Regions from separate parts of the Homo sapiens genome. Here region 2 is linked to region 1. Evidence: fine-mapped expression QTL. A gene starts in region 1. The other region holds a variant in brackets. All regions are shown on one strand. Distances are between the middles of the regions. Region 1 holds the start of AIRIM (AFG2 interacting ribosome maturation factor). Region 2 has its middle 43 kb from the start of LINC01343.

What was found.
Region 2: its variant is fine-mapped to the expression of AIRIM in atrial appendage (GTEx, PIP above 0.99).

What each region holds. Positions count from the first base shown.
Region 1 is chr1:37,685,347-37,696,347 of GRCh38, reverse strand. AIRIM (AFG2 interacting ribosome maturation factor) reads left to right here and starts at 5,819. Exons shown (of 5, transcript NM_001350770.2): 1 at 5,819-6,346; 2 at 6,465-6,742; 3 at 9,896-10,075. The coding sequence starts at 6,468. It overlaps CDCA8 (cell division cycle associated 8), which reads right to left and starts at 3,832. Exons shown (of 10, transcript NM_001256875.2): 1 at 3,564-3,832; 2 at 3,315-3,443; 3 at 398-438. The coding sequence starts at 3,657. RefSeq lists enhancers at 3,051-3,559, 3,560-4,070, 4,109-4,298, 4,071-4,580, 4,581-5,091 and 3 more and silencers at 4,529-4,698, 4,719-4,778.
Region 2 is chr1:38,251,976-38,262,976 of GRCh38, reverse strand. No RefSeq gene overlaps it. Among named protein-coding and RNA genes, the nearest start is that of LINC01343, 43 kb to the right of the region's middle. RefSeq lists an enhancer at 1-464. The variant G/C (reference allele first, on the strand shown) is at 5,183.

The DNA.
Region 1 (11,001 bases):
GATGAGAGGGGTTGGGGAATACTGAGCATCCCAAGCAAAAGCACTGCTTCTACAGTACGACATGATGAAACACCTTTATCATCTAGCAGGCCAATGCATAGTGTAATGACTCAGGCGCTTAAAGGAACTTGGGCTTGAGGCTTTCTACTTCCGCTGTAGAGTTCAGAACAAAGGACTGCAAGAAATTGGTCAAAAACAGAACTGCCACCTTCTGTAGGGCTCAGAACTATCTGGGTCTCATGTATACAGTGTCTGGTCCAACTCTAATTTTTCAGTTGACACAAACAGATGATGTCCCTTTATGAAACCTCTTCCACAGTAAGCATCTATTAGTTGGATCTGGGGACTGGACTAGACTTAAGTAACCACTGGCTGGAAAATAGGAAAGGTCACTTACTGTTGCCGCCTCTTCCAGGGCCTGTTTGTTTCCTCCAAGGGCTTTAAAAAGAACGTTGTAGTTACTATTACATTTTAACAATAAATCATCTTGCCTAATAGTACCATTTATCTTTCTAAAACTGGTCCAGCCCTTGGTCTAACCTTCAAGGACCTTCACCATCTAATCTATTCTTTCTCCAAGTTATATCCCAAATGTGCCACTGACTCTCATGACTTGTTGCCATGGTACTTTGTATTTCCTCTGCCTGAAATTCACCTCCGTACTTAACAAATTTCTAACTCATCCTTCAAAACTCAGCTCAAACATCACCCCAAAAATTCTGCTTATTTTTCTTTTTAAAAAATATATTTTAAATTTTATTTATTTTTGAGACAGAGTCTTGCTCTGTCACCCAAGCTGGAGTGGAGTGGCGCCTCCTTGGCTGTCTCCTGGGCTCAACTGATCCTCCCACCTTGGCCTCCCAAGTAGCTGGGACTACAGGCATGCGCCACCACATTCGGCTAATTTTTGTGTTTTTTTGTAGAGATAGGGTTTCGCCAAGTTGTCCAGGTTGTCTTTTTTTTTTTTTTTTTTTTTTTTAAGTAGAGATGTGGTCTCCTGCTATGTTGCCCAGGCTGGTTTTGAACTCCTGGGGTCAAGTGATACTCCTGCCTTGGCCTCCCAAAGTGCTAGGATTATAGGCATGAATCCCCACCCTATGCCCTGCCCTCTGCTTATTTTTCTTTTTTAAAAATTTATTTTTAATTATTTTTTTTAAAGCTTAAAGATATGGTCTTGTTATGTTGCCCAGGCTGGTCTCAAATTCCTGGGCTCAAGTAATCCACCTGCCTTGGCCTCCCAAAGTGCTGGAATTCCAGGTGAGCCACTGTGCCCAGCCTGCTTATTTTTCTATCTCAGCAGTTTGCTGCAAAGTGTAGAGTTAGTTGCTCACCCTCATTATACCCAATAACTACTCAAAGCTGTTTAAATGTCCATCCCTGCCTTGGACTGAATTCCAGAGATGACATCCTTTGCTTCTGGCAAAAATCTAGCAGTCAATAGATGTACAGTAAACGTGTTGAATGAAAAGGTCTTTGTGAGATTTACATGTAGAATAAAAAGTTAGGTTAGAACCTCCTGCTAGAAACTCTCATAGTATCTTGTAAAACAGTTAAGATCTCAGGCTATGAAACCAGAATACCTGGGTTCAAACAGACTATCCCACTAACTAGCTTATGAGGCCTTGAGCAAAGTGTCCAATTTCTCTGTGCCTTAATCTTGTCATTTTGAAAAATAGGGATATTATTAGTTATGAAGAAAAATTAGTTAATGTATGTAAAACACTTGGTACAATGCCCATCTGGCATAGAAAGCACAATATGCTCACTGACCACTACTCTATTCTATCTCCTTTGTAGTACCTATACTTTTAATTACATAATTGTATGTGGATTTTTCTAATAGCTCTTTTCTACTAATCTGTATGTTCCTGAAGGCAGAGACAATGTCTGTTTTATTCCCTAGTGCATCTTTAGCACCTAGCACTGTGACTGACACATGCTCAGTATTTGGAGAAATAAGCAAATGAATGGCTTAATAAATAAAAGGGCAAGTCAAAAGGATCATTCAATGTCTAATATGTGAGCAGACCATGCATTTCTATCCAGGAAGGAGACTACATGCTGGATAGTTAATAATAAGGAAAACAGAAAAGGGCAACCCAGCAGAAAAGTACAGCCTCCTGCATTTCTCCGGACATTTAATAAGGGAGTGCAGAAACAGGCTGGGATTTTTCTCTGGCCAGGAAAACTGATGTGTCTTTTTTTTTGAGACGGAGTTTCACTCTTGTTGCCCAGGCTGGAGTGCAATGGCGTGCTCTCAGCTCACCGCAACCTCTGCCTCCCAGGTTCAAGCGATTGTCCTGCCTCAGCCTCCAGAGTAGCTGGGATTAGAGGTATGCGCCACCACGCCCGGCTAACTTTTTTGTATTTTTAGTAGAGACAGGGTTTCTCCATGTTGGTCAGGCTGGTCTCGAACTCCTGACCTCAGGTCATCTGCCCGCCTCAGCCTCCCAAAGTGCTGGGATTACAGGCGTGAGCCACCACGCCCAGCCTGATGCGCCCATTTTTAGGTTAGCAATTTCCATAAGCTGCAGAAGGAGCTGCTTCGGGTTATTCTTCTATCTGAGCTCTGGTTAACTAACCATGTCATTTATTCATTCATTTTTAAATGGGTAAAATATACATATATTTTTAAAAATACTATTTTCTGGCCGGGCGCAGTGGCTGACTCCTGTAATCCCAGCACTTTGGGAGGCCTATGTAGGTGGATCACTTGAGGTCAGGAGTTCGAGACCAGCCTGGCCAACATGGTGAAACCCCGTCTCTACTGAAAATACAAAAATCAGCGGGGCATGGTGGCAGGCGACCGTAATCCCAGCCACTCCAGAGGCTGAGGCAGGAGAATCACTTGAACCCAGAAGGTGGAGGTTGCAGTGAGCAGGGATCGCACCACTGCACTGCACTGCACTCCAGCCTGGGTGACAGAGTGAGACTCTGTTTAAAAAAAATTAAATAAATTTCCTGATGTGTGAAAATTATGTGAAATTCACATTTCAGTGTATCCATAACTAAAATTTTATTGGAATACAGCCCATCCATGCCCATTCACTACAGCTGTTTTGGACCTGTAAACAGCAGAGCTGAGTTGTCCGACAGAGACCGCCCCGCCCGCCGCCCCCCAACCACCCCCCCATTTTTCATAGAGAAAAATGAAGTAGGGAAGTGAGACAGAGAGTGAAAGGGTCTGCAATTTTCCATAAGTGGTCATGTCAGATCTCATTAAAAGGTGACATCTGAGCGAGCCCTTTCTGAAGGGTGTCACCTAACCCCAAGGGGCTCCTGGCCTCCGCCCAGGGAAGCTCTCCAGCTCTTACCGAAGTAGTCAAGCCAGTTCATCTCGCGCAGAGCCTTGGGGAGCCGCAGGATCTCGATGTTGTAGAGGTTATCCACCTCCTTGAGGAGGTTCTGCCTGTCTGACTCAATTTGCTTGATTCGTATTTCCACTGCGGGAGGGCAGAGCCGACAGGACACGGGTCACGGGCGGGCGAATCTGTGCAGCTCGTGTCCCCACCCGCCAGCATCCCGCGACCGCCCCAGGAGGCCGCGACGGCCTGGCCCCTTACCTTCACGGTCGAAGTCTTTCAGAAAGGAGGCGAGCTTCCGCCTCCGTAAGGAGTTGGTCTTGGCCACCCGACTACTGCCCTTCCTAGGAGCCATGGCGCTCGGCGGAGGCTGCGGGGAGCGGCGGAGATGGGGCAGGGAAGCAAGAAACTGGGTAGGGACGAGGAGGGCGGACGGGGACCACCCGAAGAAGTCGCCAGGCACGTACCTGCGGTCCCGAGACAAGGGCTGAGCAAAACCTCGCTGTGCCAGTGAGAGAGAGCGGCTCTACAGTCAACCGCCACCCAATTCAAACTCCACAGTCACAGGCTGACGAATGAGAAGCCGCCGTCCCACAACATCCAATCACAAGCAAGTTCCTGCCGGCCCAGGGTCTTCCGCCCAATGCGCCCCCTATAGCCTGAGTGCGACAGCGAGGCCGCCGCCGTCGCGGGTACTCCTGGGAGTTGTGGTCCAGGCTTGTTTCCCCGCCCTCCCCACCAACCCACCCGGCTCCGCCCTGGCCGGCTGCGAACTATACAAACTACTACTCCCGGCAGGCCTTGTGGCGGCTCTGCAATACCCCAAGCTCTGGAGGGCTGGGGGCCTACTAGGTCAGGTCGGCTGTAGGATTCTGCTCCAGGGTTGGCGGCTGCTTCTTTCTGGCCTGGCTGCCACTGAGTAGCCGAGGGGCCGCCGTGACCCTCTGACTGATTGACTGGCTGGCTGCCTACGTCGGCGCTCCTCAGGGCCCCAAGCTCCTCAGGCCGAACTTCGGGCAAGTGGCGGGTCGGCAGAGACAGAGCAGCCCCGGCAGGGTTTGACAGAGCAAGGGGGACGGAATGATAGAGGAGCAGGGCAGGGGTGCAGGCTTTGGGGGGGGCGCGCTATCCCGCGGCCAGTCTGGGCAGCGAGTGGGGGGAACCCTGTCGTTCCTCGCTCCCCCGCGGGCCGGCCACTCCCGCCCAGTTCGCGTGTTGGCGCCTCGACTGGGTGCGCAGCGCGGGGCTGCGACTTCAGGTGCAAGTAGTGGCGCTTGGCAGCTGGCCACACGGTGACTGCAGCATGAGCCGCGGCCACCAGGCTCCAGGGAGCCCAGGGCAGGAGGCAGCTCTGGGTGTCGTGGCCGTGGGCCTGGGAATGGGCGTGTAGACGGCGAGCCCCGCCGAGCCGCGGTCCTGTCGGAGGTGCTAACTGTGCATCTTGGTATCTGCCCACGGCCACAGGGTTGGATTGCTCAAGAGTTGTGCTGAGACCCAGAAGGCTAGAGGCTAGTTTCGAAGCTGTAGCTCAGGCTGAGTCTCAAGGCGGGCGGCGACTGGACGGCCAGACCGGCGAGCTCTTGACGGGTTTGTGGCCTGATTGTTTGGATTTGGTGCTTTTCACCTGTGGATGCGGTCTGAAGCCATGTCAGAGGGGTTGTGTTTAAGCGTGCATGTTATAGGCTATGGGAGTGATAATCTTGCCTCTCCCCCTCTGAGTTGAGGAACAATCGAAGAAATAAGCAAAGGTGCCAAGCAGGCTCCTGATGGGCACCAGCGAGCTTGGGGACAGAGCAGTCCAAGCATAGAAGTCCTGGCAAGCCTGGACCTTCCTGGAAAGTCCTTTCTCTCTCTTCCACCCTGGTCTGTTGCTCCATATGCAACAAATATTTGAATGTCGCTCTTCCGCCCGAGGTCAGCCCTGGGCAGTGGGTAGTGGGGGTGACACCCCAGTCTGCTGGGTGCCTGAGGATCTCCATCAGTCAGATGGCCAAGATGAGACGGGATGACAACCCGTACCTCATGTAGGCTTTCCCCCTGCAGGTGTTTTTATGCTGCGCAAGTCGGGCTTCCAGCCTCTCGGTTTCAGGGTTTCCTTCACCCTACTCCCCAGTGAGCCCGAACTCCCTGGGCACCTAGGACGTCCACCTGCATTTTAGCCAGAGCTGCCACGTCAGGAGCCCGTGATTTACTAGTTTTTGCCAGTTGGTTGTGATACACAATGTCAAAAGTGTCATTAAGGCACAACCGGAGGCGCAAGATAAGAGGAAAAGACTCCACAGCTAACAGGACATGCCACCACCGCCACCCAATTTAAACTGCCGCAGGCTGACAAATGAGAAGTCGCCGTGTTTGGACGGTCCCAACATCCAATCCCAAGGAAGCTTCAAGCCGAGTGGCCAGTCCACATGTTGGACTACAGTACCCAGAAGTCATTGCGGCACTACGATATATTTTCGCGACTCAGTAGCCAGGCAGGCCCGCGGAGTAGCTTTGTGGGGAGGTCGCGTGTGAGCATGCGCAGAGAGACTGTGGGCGCGTGGTGCAGTCCCTGGAGGGTTCTCACGCTTTGGCTGTCTGGACTTTTAAGTTTTTCCGCTTTTTCAGGAAGGCGACCGGCAGCCTCGGGCAGGGGAGACAGGACTGTATGTCAGAGAAGAGACGGCGCTTGGACGCCAGGAATCCTCTGAAGCAGGAGACTGCCCTATCCAGGTTACCCTTCCCGAGGGGAAACCAGGGTCTCCTTCAGAAAGCTGAGGCAGGCCGGGCGCGGTGGCTCACGCCTGTAATCCCAGCACTTTGGAAGACCGAGGCGGGCGGATCACCTGAGGTCAGGAACCCCGTCTACTAAAAATACAAAAATTAGCCAGGCGTGTTGGCGGGCACCTGTATTCCCAGCTACTCGGGAGGCTGAGGCAGGAGAATTGCTTGAACCCGGGATGCGGAGGTTGCAGTGAGCCGAGATAGCGCCACTGCACTCCAGCCTGGGCGACAGTGAGACTCCGTCTCGAAAAAAAAACAAAAAAAAAACCCTGCTTCTGGAGGTGAGACAACTCCTGTCTGAACACGATAACAGAGATGACGCCCACCCTCGACCCAGTGCCTCCCCGACTGACTTGGCACCCCAACGTGGTTATTTTCTGTTTTTATCTTTTTCAGCAGAAGATGACTCAAGACCGGCCTCTGCTTGCCGTGCAGGAGGCGCTGAAGAAGTGCTTCCCCGTGGTGGAGGAGCAGCAGGGCCTGTGGCAGAGTGCCCTGCGGGACTGCCAGCCCCTCCTGTCCTCCCTCAGCAACCTGGCGGAACAGCTGCAGGCCGCACAGAACCTGCGGTTTGAGGATGTGCCGGCGCTTCGGGCCTTCCCAGATTTAAAAGAGCGGCTGAGGCGTAAGCAGCTGGTGGCTGGTGACATCGTCCTGGACAAGCTAGGGGAAAGGCTGTAAGCAGCTCCCTAGTGCTGTTTCTTGGTGGAAGGATTTTAAAACGAGGTGTTTTATATGTAGCTAGTGTCAGTCCAGAAGGTGTTTTTCTCCTTGAAAGCGTGGCATGTGGAGGTATCTCAACCTTCCTTACTTCATCTGGGGCAGTGGGACCTCGGTCAGAAAGCCATTTTCTGGCATTTTCTTTGTCAGAGACTAGGCATGGCAGTGGTGGGCTTAGTAGAAGTCACAAAAGAAGAAGAGAAAAGGAGCGGAGAAAGCCTATTAGCTCTGCCCTATAGTTTTCTTTGGTAAAAGGCAGTGAGGAGCTGTGTAAACTTAGTAGGTGCTAGAGCTAAGGGGTTTATGTATATTACGTTATAAAGTCTCTTCAACATATCTGTGACTTAACTGCACTTAATTCTATGCAGGTAGGAAACTGAAGCTTAAGCAGATTGCCCATGGTGACGCAGCTAGAAAAGGGTAGAGCTGGGATTCTAACTCAAGTGTGCCTGACACAAAGGCTAGAGCTCTTAATCACCACTTTGTTCTGCTGTAGATTGGTGTCTCTGTGCCCAGGAGTAGCACGTCTCCAAGTTCTGATATGCTTGTTGTCAGACCCAGTGCCTGCGTTACAGATTTTTTTTTTTTTTTTTTTTTGAGACAGGGTCTTGCTCTGTCACTCAGGCTGGAGTGCAGTGGCACAATCACAGCTCATTGTAGCCTCGATTTCCCTGGTTCAAGCGATCCTCCCACCTCAGCCCCCCAAGTACCTGGGACAACAAGCGTGCACTTCCATGCCCAGCTAATTTTAAAATTTTTTGTAGAGATAGGGTCTCACTATGTTGCCCAGGCTGAGAGTTACAGGTTATTGAGGACAGAGGGGAGACAGGGCATGTGTGGCCTTTCCTTGAACTGGAACAAAAGAAAGTTCCAGTATATAGAGTCTGTCATAGACTAATAGGAAACTGTCACAGATGAGGACTTTCCTTTTATTTATTTGTACAAAATACGTTCATTAGGCACCTTGTGGGATGCCAAGCACAAGGTGCCAAGAATATAAAAATGAACCAGATTTAGTTCCTGTTCTTAGTTGAGTAGAAGAAATAAACAATCAGTGAATTAAATTGTGGGATGTCCTAAGATATTGATAAGTACGGCTTGTGTGGAGTGGGGAAGTTTCTGGGGAGGAAGTGATATTAAAAACCTAATGGTTGAAAAGATGTAAACAGAGTCAAGACGTGGGTATGAGTAGTGTGCATAGAGAATAGTATGACTGGCCCGGCACGGTGGCTTATGGCTGTAATCCCAGCACTTTGGGAGGCAGATCACTTGAGGTCAGGAGTTCGAGACCAGCCTGGCCAACATGGTGAAACACCATCTCTACTAAAAATAAAAAAAGTTAACTGGCTGTCGTGGCACACACCTGTAGTCCCAGCTAAAGGGGAGGCTGAGGCAGGAGAATCTCTTGGACCTGGGAGGCAGAGGTTGCAGTGAGCCAAGACTGTCCCACTGCACTCCAGCCTGGGTGACAGAGCAAGACTCTGTCTCAAAAAAAGAGAGAAAAGTATGACAGGAGCAGAGGCCTGGTAAGAGATGAGATCAGCTGGGTATGGCAGCTCAGCCTGTAATCCCAGCACTTAGGGAGGCTGAGGCAGGAGGATCGCTTGAGCCTAGAAGTTTGAGACCAGCCTGGGCAACATAGTGAGATCCCATTCTCCATGAAAAGGAAAGCAAAACAAAAAAAAGATGAGGCCAGGTACGGTGCCTCACTCCTGTAATCCCAGCACTTTGAGAGGCTAAGGACAAGAGGATCATTTGAACCCAGGAGTGCTGTGAGTACCTATGAGTGCTTTACTTAATATTTTGTCTTTTATTTATTTTTATTTTATTTTTAGAGACAGTCTCACCCTGTTGCCCAGGCTGAAGTGCAGCGGTATGATCATAGCTTACTGTAGCCTCTAACTCCTCCTGCCAGCCTCCTGAGTAGCTGGGATTCCAAGAGCATGCCACCATACCTAGCTAATTTTTAAAATTTTTTGTGGAGATAGTCTTGCCATATTGCCCAGGCTGGTCTCAAATTCCTGGCTTCAAGCTGTCCTCTGGCCTTGCCCTCCCAAACTACTGGGATTACAGGCATGCCACTGCACCTGTTTTTTTTTTTAAATGTTTTAATTAAAAAAAAATATATATTAGCTGGGCACGGTGGCTCATGCCTGTAATCCTAACACTTTGGGAGGCCGAGGTAGGTGGATCACCTGAGGTCGGGAGTTCGAGACCAGCCTGACCAACATGGAGAAACCCCGTCTCTACTGAAAAAAAAATACAAAATTAGCCGGGTGTGGTGGCGCATGCCTGTAATCCCAGCTACTCAGGAGGCTGAGGCAGGAGAATCACTTGAACCCGGGAGCCAGAGGTTGTGGTGAGCCAAGATCGCACCATTGCACTCCAGCCTGGGCGACAAGAACGAAACTCCATCTCAATAAAAAAACAAAAAACAAAAACAAAAACTATACACACACACACACACACACACACACACACACACACACACACACACACACACTTTTGAGACGGAGTCTCGCTCTGTCACCCAGGTTGAAGTGCAGTGACGCGAACTTGGCTCACTGCAACCTCTGCCTCTGGGTTCAAGTGATTCTCGTGCCTCCCGAGTAGCTGGGTCTACAGGTGTGCACCACCACACCTGGCTAATTTTTGTATATTTAGTAGAGACGGGGTTTTGGGACATTGGCTGGTCTCAAACTCCTGACCTCAGGTGATCCACCCCGCTCAGCCTCCCAAAGCTGGGATTACAGGCAACAGCCTCTGCACCCAGCCCCTTTCTTGATTCTTGAGCCACCCGTACCTCCAAGACACTGTCACTAATCTCCTTAGACCAGTGGTCTCAATTGGAGATGGTTTTTCTATGAGGGGACATTTGGCATCATCTAGAGGCATTATTGGTTGTTATGGCTTATGGAGGGTATAGGTATAGTTTACACCTGTCATTTAGTGGGTAGGGGCCAGGCATGCTCCTACACGTCCTACAATGTACAGGGCAGCCCTTCACAACAGAGAATCATGTAGTCCAAAATATCAGTAGTGCCAAAATTGAGAAACCTTCCTTTATACATGTCTCATGATATTGCCTAATGTCAGACTCTTTCTTGCAGAGCCATCCTCCTCAAGGTGCGAGACATGGTCAGCAGCCATGTGGAGCGAGTGTTTCAGATCTATGAGCAACACGCAGACACAGTTGGCATTGATGCTGTCCTGCAGCCTTCAGCAGTGAGCCCCTCTGTGGCTGACATGTTGGAATGGTTGCAGGATATTGAGAGACATTATCGAAAGTCGTATCCTTTGCACACATTTCAGGTCACAGCCAGAGCTGTTCTAAGTCTTTCAAATTTCAGTTTTCACAAGATTGGAAAACTAAGTAGTTTGAGTCAGTTCTCTTTGGTTCCTGAACTTGGATTCTTCCTGCATTCCTTTGTATAATCCTTCCTCTAATAATTTATCGAGTAGCTACTACCTGTCAGGCACTGTTCTTGGTGCAAAGAGACAGGCATTGAAAAAGGCAAGTAGAATGCTGAATGGCGATAAGTGTTATGGAGAAAAATAAAGCAGGGAAAGTGAGGAGTGAGGGTGGAGTTGTGATTTAAAATAGGGTGGTCAGAGCAGGCTTCATGAGAAAGTGATATTTGAGCAGAGATCTGAAGAGGGTAAGGGAAAGAGCTATGTGGCTATTTGGGGAGAGAAAGTTACTAGGCAGAGGAAACATCAAATGCAAAGGCCTTGTGGTAAGAACATTCCTGGTCTATTCAGGAAATAGTAAGGAGGCTAGACTGGAGCATGAGGAGGAGCCTAACAGCAGGTGAGGGTAGAAAGACAGGGGGCTCGACTTTCTAGGGCCTTGAAGGTCTTTGAAAGAATTTGGGGTCTGGGCGTGGTGGCTCACACCTGTAATCCCAGCCCTTTGGGAAGCTGAGGTGGGAGGACTGCTTGAGCCCGAGAGTTTGAGACCAGCCTGGGCAACATGGTGAAACGCCGTCTCTACAAAAAATACAAAAATTAGCCAGGCATGGTGGTATGTGCCTGAAGTCTGTAATCCCAGCTACTCGGGAGGGTGAAGCTGGAGGATTGCTTGAACTGGGGGAGGTCAAGGCTGCAGTGAGCTGAGATCGTGCCACTGCACTCCAGCCTGGGTGATAAAGTGAAACTCTGTCTCCAAAAAAAAAAAAAAGAATTTTGGGCCAGGCATGATGGTGTGCAGCTATAG
Region 2 (11,001 bases), 570 kb before region 1:
GGCTCACGCCTGTAATCCCAGCACTTTGGGAGCCTGAGGCAGGAGGATCGCTTGAGCCCAGGCATTGGAGGCCAGCCTGGGCAACATGGTGAAACCCTGTCTCTACAAAAAATTAGCTGGTGTGGTGGTGTGCACCTATAGTCCCAGCTTCCTGGGAGGCTAAGGTGGGAGGATCGCCTGAGCCTGGGGAAGCCAAGGCTGCAGTGAGCTGTAATCATGCCACTGCGCTCCAGCCTGGGCAACAGAGCAAGATTCTGTCTAAAAAAAAAAAAAAAAAGGCAACATGTATTGCTGCTCCCAGTGTTCTAACTTAACTTCCATTCCACTGAAATTCCATTCAGCAAACATTTCCTGAGCACGCAAGAGCCAGGCCCTGCACTGGGCAAGCTCCCACTATGCGCCAAGCCCCATGAGTGCTTCCTTCGTGCCATGCCCTAGGCTGGGTGTCACCCCATATACCAGCACCTATGCTACGTAGACACCAACTGTCTACATTGCCAGATCCCCGAATCGCAGGGCTTCTGCCTATTTCATGGGAGGAAACTGAAGCTCATAGAAGTTAGATAACTTGCCCAACATCACACAGCTAGTGGGGGACACAATAGGGCTTTGAATCCAGGTCTGCCTAATTCTAGAGCTCTAAAGAGATGAAGTAACTTATGGGAAGGGGTAGTTACTATTATTGTTATTATGAATACAGCTACTACTCTTACATTTTCCCCAGAATTCTAAGCCTTCCCTTACATTTCATGGGATTCTACCCTCCTGTGCTCCTAATGGTGGAAAAGTAAGAAAATCAGACTTTCAGCCCTGGAAAGTCCCCTAGAGATCATGGAATCCATCTCTCCCCCTTGGACAGGTGGGGAAGTTGAGGCCCAGAGAGGTTCATAGGGCAACCAAGGGCACCCAAGGAGAGAGAGCAGGCCGGGCGCAAGGACTGTTGACCGCTGGCCAGCCCTCTTCCTCCACACGGAGCCCCCCGCCTTGCTGTATCAGGACTTCGAGCTCCTCAGAGGGCCTCTCAATATGCAAAGCCAGGGGAAGAGCTGACACCTGACAGCCTGGTGATGGTTTGGATGGTTTCTGAAGCCCTCTGCTGAGTGAAGGCAATATTAGTCATCAGAGATCTACACGCGCCTGAGCATCCTTGTCAGAAAATGTGATGACTTAGTGGACTGAAAATGTATTTCCCTGCCTTATCACACATCTGGAGTTCCAGCAGAGCAGCCCCTGGGTTGGGGAGGCAGTCAGCCTCAAGAATTTGCAGATATTGGTGTTTATCAGAAAAAGTCCAAATGGAGGGTGACGGGAGTAATAGCTTGAGAACATGCCGATGGTGATAAGGAAACAGTATCTGCTCATTACCTCAGAGACCTCTCCCATCACCCCCAACCTGCAGCCCTGTCTGCTCCTGGCTTTGAGAGGAGATCACATTTGCTTTTTCCACCAGGGGTGAAGGGAGGGAAAATACCGCCTACTCTGACTGGGGAGAAGCCAGCTGCTCTCCCAGAACTGGGCTTCCATTCCACTGAATTTCCTTTCAGCAAACATTTCCTGAGCATCCAAGAGCCAGAACCTGCTCTGGGCAAGCTCCCACTGTGTGCCAAGTCCCATGAGTTCCTCTTCTGTGCCATGCCCTAGGCTGGGTGTCACCTGCATACACCAGCACCTATGCTAGGTAGACACCGACTGTGTGCCAGATCCCAGAATGGCAGGGCTTCCGAGGTGCACCAGGTCCTATGTTGTGTGGGCACCTCCCAGCAGGTGCTGTTAATGCCAAGTCCTGGGGCATAAAGCTCAATCAGTTGCCCATAAGGCATTTGTAGTTTGTCCAAGAAGAAAGACATGTGACTCATTAGCTAAAATACCCTCTGAGCTATCTATTGCCAGTTGGTTAATAAAGTCCTGCAGGGGCCAATATGGGTGAGAGATTTGTTCTGCATAGGGCTCTCAGGTGAGGCTTCCTGAGAAGTCAGCTTTAAGGGATTAGCTGGAGTCTTCCAGTCACAGAAAAAGGCAAGAGCATCCCAGGAAGAGGGCACAGCTCCAGCAAAGGCAGAGAAGAGTGACAGGACTTAGCACAGTTGGGAAATGGCAGGTTGGCCAGTGTTAGGGAGGAGGAGGGCAAGAGGAGACAGCAGGAGATGAGACCTCAAGGGAAGGACAGAGCCATCTCATGAGGGGTCAGCCATGCTCTGAGGAGCCTTGTGGGTCTGTAGAGAAACCTTAGAGGGAAGCTGCGGAGGTAGACTCTGGGAACTCCACCACATTTCAAGCAGAAGAGCTCCATCTTTATTTCATATATTAGGCACCTGTGTAAGATGACTCTTGAAAATTGGGTTTGGCAGCTAGAAAAAAAGGGGGGAAGGAGGGAAAAATGACAAAGGAAAGAGAGGGAGGGAAAAGAGAGGAGAAGAGAGGGGAAGAAGGGGAGAGAAAAGGAGTAGAGGGAAAGAAGGGAAAAGGAGGGGAAGGGAAAGGGAGAGGAGGAGAGGGAGGAAGGAAAAGATAAACAAGGTTAAGTCTGAATTCCATAGGTTGCAAAGATAAGGAAGCTGAAGTCCCAAAAGATTAGTTGACCAAGCTTGGAGTGGAACCCAGATCTGCCCAGGCACTGTTTCAGTGTTTGGCCCCAAGCCTGTTCATGAGTAGAGCCCAAGATAAAGTTCTGCTAAGCACAGATGCCCCACAACCTACTAGAGTGCAACAGTGGCCACATCTCCCAAGCCACAGAAAGCACCAAACCAATGGACAGAATGTTTCTTATTCACAGTATTTCACCAAAAAACTCTCCTAAGCCTTTGACTTGGCTTTCATCTGCTCTTAGGCAGGCTTGAGGGAGAATACATCCTGATAGTTTGAATTTTCCTGGTGTCTGAAGCAGTGACTTCCAGCTGCTCTGTCGTTTCCAGATAAGGAATCTGAGATGCAGAGGAAAGAGGCATTGTGTCCAAGGTCACATGGTGGGCAGTGGCAGGGACAAAGCTAGATGCCAGGTCTGTTGGCCTGGCACCAGGCTGCTCCACTGTGTCTGCCACTGCCAACAAGCCCCAGGAGGCACTGTTAAAGCCTACTGGATGCTAGTCACTCAATGTGACTTAGTGTGAATTCTGTGTGGGTACCTTCTTGGTACTATCAGGCCTAGACCAGACACATGAGTGCTCCAGGCAGGTTATATTTTGACCCAACTTCAATCTGATAGACTTAAAGGATTTGTTCATCATTTATTTTGGGGATAAATTGAGTCCTGCCTGATGAAAGTTACAGAAAGCAGATGTGTGGCCTCTCCTAATTTGTGCCATGTTCATTATCCCAGCAATTATGCTCCACCCCAAACTTGCATGCCCTCATTTAGCAAAGCAAAAGCCCTGGATTCAGCTAACCCACTCTCCTTAGAGGGCAGTTTAGAAGGCACCTATTTTTCCTTTGGTCTCAGGCAGGGGGAATGGCAGTGCAAGGAGATACCTTATCCCTGCCCCTCACTCCCAAGCAGCTTCTGTTCAGCCATATCCAGTGTCCTCCCTGAGACAAGTTCTAGAAAACATAATTGACCCCACATTATTAGATTTCCAGCATTTTGGGTGCCCTAGCCTTGGTCAATGGGAACTACCATGGTGAGGTGGATCAAGTCCCTGACCTCAGGAATGAACATTCATTGAGCACCTACTGTGTGCCAGGCACCGGCCAGTGGCTTTCATATCGTTTATCTCATCAAACCCCCACCATGGCCCCAAGATGTAGGAATTGTCATCCTCATTTCACAGATGAAGAAACTGAGGCTCAGAGAGATGCAGTCACTTGCCTGGGGTCCCACAGCTCAGGACCAGGGTTTATTCCCAGTTCTGCATGTCTGTAGCCCACCCTATCTCAGGGCATAGGATTCCCTTCTCCCTCCTCATATGGGCCCCACTTCCTAGATGGTGCAAATAACTCCACGGAAATAAACCCTCTGGGCCTGGCTACTCAGAAAGCCAATCCTTTCTCCCAAGGTCACTTGGAAATCCTGGGGTGGAGGCATAGCTCTCATGCTTGCAGTCCAGGTGGGCTTTCTGGTGACCACTGCCCTGCAAACCCCAACTCCTTAAATAGTACCTTCATTTGCAGAGACTGGCCTCCTCACTCCCTGACTGCTATTTAGCACCAGTTCCCCAAAGGGTTAAAAATGGGAACCAAATAATTTATTTCAAGATCTTCAAAAACAAATTCAAATTTTTTTTAATTATGTCAAATTAAGGCCATTAAAAGTTAAGCTGTGTACCCAGAGCATTTTCCTGGGAAAGGTGCTGTAACATCATTATTTCTCCCCAAAACGCACTTACTGTACATTTCTCAAAGCCATCAGCCTTGATTGAAGGCTAATGAAAAAGCTGTCCTGCGTCAGTTTATTCCTTGTATCCATTAAGAATAATTACGGCTGAACAATTTTTGATGCCTGTAACCTTCGAAAGCGTTGCTAATGGCATTATAAATTGCTCCTTGTCCAATGACTATGGCGAGATGCTTAATTCAAAGGCGCTCTGTCAACAGGACTGATTTGTGTGGCTAATGAGCGCGTTTAAAACAACAGCCTCGGCTCATGCATCCGAATGTCAATAAGAGGACGAGGTTCAATAAGGAGGCTTGTCCGTAATAATTAGCAGGGACAAGCGCTCCAGATCAGGCCCATTGTGGCTTTCACAGCGCTGTTCTCAAGACAGCACTAGCATCCCTGGGGCCTGCCCGGGCACAACTCTTCACTCTTGGACTGGAGTTGGAACCAGGACCCAGAAGACCAGGGCAAGGGACAATGGCAGAGGAGGACATGTTGACCAGGGTGTTCAAGACAGTGATAAGAAGAAGCCTAGAAGCATTTATTAAGCACTTCGTCATTAATTCTGCAGACATTTATGGAGCACTTACTGTGTACAGGTGCCAGGGGAGACAGTGGTAGGATAAACACAGATCCTGGTCTCCCCATGTTCACCAACTGGTGGGGCCAATGAACTAAGCCATCACCAGCGAGGCTGGCAAGTGTCATGCTGGGAAAAGCAGAAGATGCAGCGAAAACAGCAAGGAGGGTGCCCAGACAACCTAGTGCCAGGGGAAGTGGTGTTTAAGATGAGACGGAAGCATCACTGGGAGCTAGCCAGTCAAGGGAACTGCCATCAGGGGGACCAAGACAGGATGAGGAAACTGAAGGAAG[G/C]CTCACCTGCTGGAGTGGTGGGAGGCGAGACTGCTAGGGTTGGCAGAGTTGGTGGGGGGATATGGAGCCATGGCTGCCAGGCACATGGGGTGTGGGTGAGGGGATACCTAGGGGAGACTGAAGCACTTTAATGTGCACCTCTCTCCCGTCTCAGAATGCCCTCTCCTATCCCAGCCCTCTAAGTCTCAGTGCCAATGCCATCTCCCCCAGGAAGTCTGCCCTGATTTCTCCTTGCTTTCTTGTTTGGCTACAACCCCCAGCTAGCATCAAGGCTGCGCTTGTCAGCATCTCCTTGTGTCCTGCGTGTCATGTAGACAGTCATCTCCTTAAGAATAGAGACTGATGCCTTAGTTTGCTGTTGCCCCGTAGGGCCAAGCACAAAGTCAGACACATAGCTGGCCCTCAGTCGGGGCTTGTGATCTGCCCTGTTTAACTTTTCCTGGTATTCCCACTGCTATTGTTATTTCTATGGTTAGCTTTTTATTGCACAAACATTCATTACAAATTAGGATAGGGGAAGGAGCAGGAGTAGAAGAGGAGATGTAGGAGTTGGAGGAGGTGCTCAGAGATGAGACAATTTGGGCCCTGGCCTCCAGGACCCCCAACCTTTGTCCTGGATGTGAACACACACAGCATGTTTGCTAAACAGCACAGCTGGCCAGGGGCTAGGGTCTGAGGCCCGTTTGAGGGAGGATTACAAGTGAGTCCTCGAAGGTCCAGTGAAGGCATTTGGCTTTTAATATACAGCTAAAAAAAGCCAATGCTTGCTTTAGGCTGGGGAGTAACATAGGCAGACATAGGTAATACAAGCAGATGCCTCTGACTGCATGTGAGGACGGGATTGGAAAGAAAAAATCAGAGGGAAAGAAAGGGCTAAGAACTCAGGATCCAACTGCCTGGGTTCAAATCTCAGCTCTGCCATTTACAAGCCATGAGGTTTTCAGCAAAATTACTTGCCCTCTACAGACTTAGTTTCCCTCTATATAAGATGGCAATAATAACATAACCTACCTTACAGAGTTATGGAGAGGGTAAGGTGAGAAAATGTGTGTAAAGGATTTTGCATAGTCCCTGGCACTTAATAAGTACTGTTATTACTATAGTCATTGCATATCAAGCACTCCAAAAAAAAAATGGAACCTTGTTTTATCAAATGAGGAAACAAAGATGCAAAGCGGTGAAGTAACTGGCATAAGGTCACTTGGCTGGTATGAAGTGTGAGAGGTAGCTCCAACCCAGTACACTTTCCTCTACTCCAGGGGCCTCCCCAGCACAGAGAGTGATGGCTTACAGCAGCCAGGCTGTGTGTGCATGTGTATGCCTATGTGTGTGCGTGTGTGCATGTGACATGGGTATTTGCAGGAGGAGCAGGGCATAGCATCAGAACTGGATATGGTGCAGTCACACACCCCTGCTTCAGATGTGGGGCTCTGTCCCAGGACAACCCTGGGCCTGCTAGGAGGGCTCCAGGTGTTTGCCTGCAGGAGCTGAGGGGAGCAGTCACGGTGGGGGCCACTCCCGCGCCCACCCACTGGCGCCCCCTGCCTCCGGGGGTTCTCCAGGTGTGAAGGCAGCAGACAGGTTTCAGAGGATGGGCTGTCACGATCTGTCTCCCCTCTTTGGATGACAAGTCTCAGATTCCTATCTCAGCAGAGAGGTGCTAGTGAAATCCCGGAGGAAATGATAAACGGGGTGTTTGCTCCAATCAATCTCCAAGAAGAGATTTCGTTTGAATGCTTTCCACTTCTACTCCTACCAAGAGAGTGAGGAAGCTGCCGTTTAGATCCTGTGCTTCAGTCTTCCATTTTCTCCAGGATGGTGGGTGTTTGGGGCAGCCCAGTCTCTGCCTCAGTAAATGGAGCAGTTTTTAGTCCTTATCAGAGGACGCCCCTGCAGCCTCTGACACTTCACACCTTCTGAAAGCATTCTCCTCCTCTGGCTTCCATGACAACTCTTCCGAGTTTCCTCCAAAATCTCTGGCTGGTCCCTCTTGGTTTCCTAGACAGATGTTTCTTCCTTTGTCTTTCTCGTAACTATCCACATTCTTCTTATTTCCAACCTGTGTTCTCTTCCCAATCCAAGCCTTCTCCCTGAGTGAGTTCAGCTTCATTTGTCACCTAAAGGCTATGGCCCCTAATCTCTCACTCTGGCCAGTGCTCTGCTGACTTAGACCCATGTCACCACCTGCCCTTTGAACATCTCTATTCAGGTGACTTACAGCGATCGCAGCAAATGTCATCATTCACCATAGTCCTCCCCAGCCAGGTCTCTTCCTGTGTCCTTGAACTCCTTAAAACAGTGCCATCATCCATCTGATTGACAGATGATGTTCGTCTCCTAGAAACTTGACCTAAAGAAGCTTCCCAAAATGCCCCTCCTCCCACAGAAAATTGCGAAGCAAGAATGTCTGGGTTTAGATCCAGGCTCTACCATTTACTGGTTGTGTGACCATAGCATGTCACTTAACTTCTCTGAGCCTCAGTTTCCTCATCTGCAAAATGAAGATAATAGGCCCACCTCATGAGTTGTTGTGAACCATAAATGAGTTAATACATGCAGAGTTAGAAGAGACACTCCTATATCTAATTAGTCACTAATTGGATCAGTTCTACCCCCTAAATGTTTCCTAATCCTCTACTTCTTTCCACCATATTGTCAATCTTATAGTAAGTTCAGGACTTACTGCAAAACCTGCCTAATGATCCTCCCCTCCATCTGTCTTGCTGCCTTCATGCACGGCCAGACTGAGTCTAGAGGACATATCAGATCATATCCCTTCTGTGGCTCCTCATCACGGTGTGACAAAGTTCGAGATTCTGAACCTGGTTTTGTCAAATGGGGCCCTTCAGGGGTTTTGCCCCCTGTTTACTTACCCAGCCCCTTCTTTTGCCCTCCTCTGAGCTCTGGCCTTGAGCCACATTAAATTACTTGCTCTTTTCCCAAAAAATAAGGCCTCTGAGCCTTGCATATGCTGTTCCCACTACCACCACCACCGCCATGAACAACAACTTCATCAGAAGCAGTCTTGCTCCTTCTTCAAGTCTGGGTGTAGGCCTTGCCCTCTGGGAGGCCCTCTGTAGTGGATACTGTAGTGTGCTACCCAGATCTCCTCTCAGGACCAAGGTGCTCATTCCCAGCTGCTGGGAGCAGGAGCACTGGCTGCCTCCCTCATGGTTATGCCCCATCCCTGGGGCACCCACATCCAGTGACTGGTTGGTATAGAGTATAGGCCCAGCCCTTTGCCTCAGTTCTGGACAACTCTGTCCTTCCCAGCTCCAGGACTCCCTGTGAGACTGGCTGAGGCCTCCGGTGCAACTGCTTAGCAATTAAACCTCTCCGGGGCCAGGGCGCTTCCCTCATCTCCCTATGGGCATGACTTCCCAGAACCATTTCCTGTAAACTTCCCCCATACAAATCTCCATCTCAGAGTCTGTCTCCAGGAAACCTGACCTAAGATGCTTCTCAAAATGCCCCTACTCCCTAGGCTGGGCACGGTTCTCTTACTTCCTGTGGCTCCCCACAAACCAGTCTCCCTCTGCTACCTTTATTAAACTCCTACAACACTGGATAAAATCAGTGGTTTCCTTGTCCATCCCCCTCATTAAGTGGAAGCTACCTGAGAGGAACCACACTCATTCCTCTTTGTCTCTGCAGTGCCTGGCTTCATGCCTAGAATGGTTTCGTGACACTTAGAGGTTTGTTTTGTTCTGTTTTGAGACGGAGTGTTGCTGTGTCACCCAGGCTGGAGTGCAGTGGCGCGATCTCAGCTCACTGCAACAGACTTAGAGATTTTTATGGAGCCATCTCCAGGAAGGATTTTTGATGCGGCTTATAAAACAAATCATTTAACATTTTGTTCTTTGTTGTTATCAAATAATAGGTATGATAGCCATCTCAGAGCATCATTCCATCCTTGGGCCTGAAGGATACAGGAGGCTTCAGGATGCAATAAAAGATGGTAAGAGGCTGGTGGCTCAAGCCTGTAATCCCACCACTTTGGGAGGCTGAGGTGGGCAGATCACCTGAGGTTGGGAGTTCGAGACTAGCCTGGCCAACTTGGTGAAACTCGTCTTTACTAAAAACACAAAACTCATATATATATATATATATATATATATAGTACTCAAGACTCAAGTCTCTTCATATATATATATATATATATATATATATATATGAAGAGACTTGAGAAAAGATAGGAGAGACCAGAGAGAGTGAGGGACCAGGAAAGAGATGAGGATTAGTGGAGCATGCCTGATAGTCACGTGACTTGGTAATGGAAAACAGTGTCTTTCACACTTTGATGCAGCCACTTGGGTAGCAAAACAGCCATATCAAATATGCCTCATGCTGTAGCCTGGCATATACTGGGTGCTCCCTAAAACTCTAGTCAATGGCTGCAGTTGCCTCCCTGATAAAGCCTAGGCTGCTTAGCAAGTCTCATCATGGCCCTACGCCAGCTAACCCTTGCCTGCTTTTCTGGTCTCATTTCTTGCCCTGCCTCCTCACATAACCTCCTGTTCACATGCTCCTGCCTATGCACAGGCAGCTCCTGCCTTTCCCCACTTTTGCCACTCAGGGAATTCCTATTCAACTGAAGCCCTCCCTGATTGCTCCAGCAGGCTATTTCCTTTCCTTCTCTGATTGGTTTTGTATCACTCTGCTTTGGGATCACCTGTAATCTTGTCTGTCTCCCCAAGCAAACTGTGAGCTTCATGCGGGCAGGGAATATGACCAATCTGTCTCTATCTCCAGCACAGCACTTAACCTAACCCTAAGCATAAGATCACACATTGTTGGCTAAGAGGATGGATGAAGTTTCTCTGCATCTGAGTTGGCTCAGGGCATGCCTTTGGGTATGATCTTCAGTTCCCTGGGACATAGATTGAGAAGAAGCTTAGAGCACTCTGGCACCTCTGGAAAGCATGTAGTTAAAGACCCAGTCACAGTCTCCAGAGAAGGTGCCATGGACTCGGTGATTAGAGTCACAGGTTTCATCTAGATCTCACTTGGGGGAAGTGGGGACCAACAGCCTTGACACTGCCTTACATCCATAGTGTCCATAGAGCACCTGCCCCAGCACCATCCCAGTCCATAGTATCTCTACTTCGTAGCAACCCCAAAGTCAGGTGTGATGCTAGCCCTATTTGACAGATGATAACTAAGGCTCAGAGGTCTCCTAAACTCCTTACAGTTCCACCATTCCTTGATTCAATGACTCTTACTGGATCTTGTCCATCTGTGACTCTGGCCAAGGAGAACCATGGAACCCAGTGCTGGCCCTAGCTCTAGAGCCCTTTGCTGAGAGCCAACTCCTGCCCAAGGAGAGGCAACAGGACTGGGGAATAGAGGAGGCATCGCTTTCCTTTAAAAGGGCTTACCCTGACCCTCCAAAATTGGCTAGCATTTCGGCTCACGCGTGTAATCCCAGCACTTTGGGAGGCCGAGGAGGGCAGATCACGAGGTCAGGAGATCAAGACCATCCTGGCTAACACAATGAAACCCTGTGTCTACTAAAAATATAAAAAATTAGCTGGGCATGGTGGCGGGCGCCTGTAGTCCCAGCTACTGGGGAGGCTGAGGCAGGAGAATGGCGTGAACCCGGGAGGTGGAGCTTGCAGTGAGCCAAGATTGTGCCACTGCACTCCAGCCTGGACGACAGATCAAGAATCCGTCTGAAAAAAAATAAAAAGAAAGAAAGAAAGAAAAAAAAAAAGACCCTGCCAGCCTACCCTTCAGTTTGGGCAGGACTTAATCCATGCTTGGTCTCATAAACCTCCCATGGATTCTGAGGCCAACTTTGAGATGCCATTTACAGGACA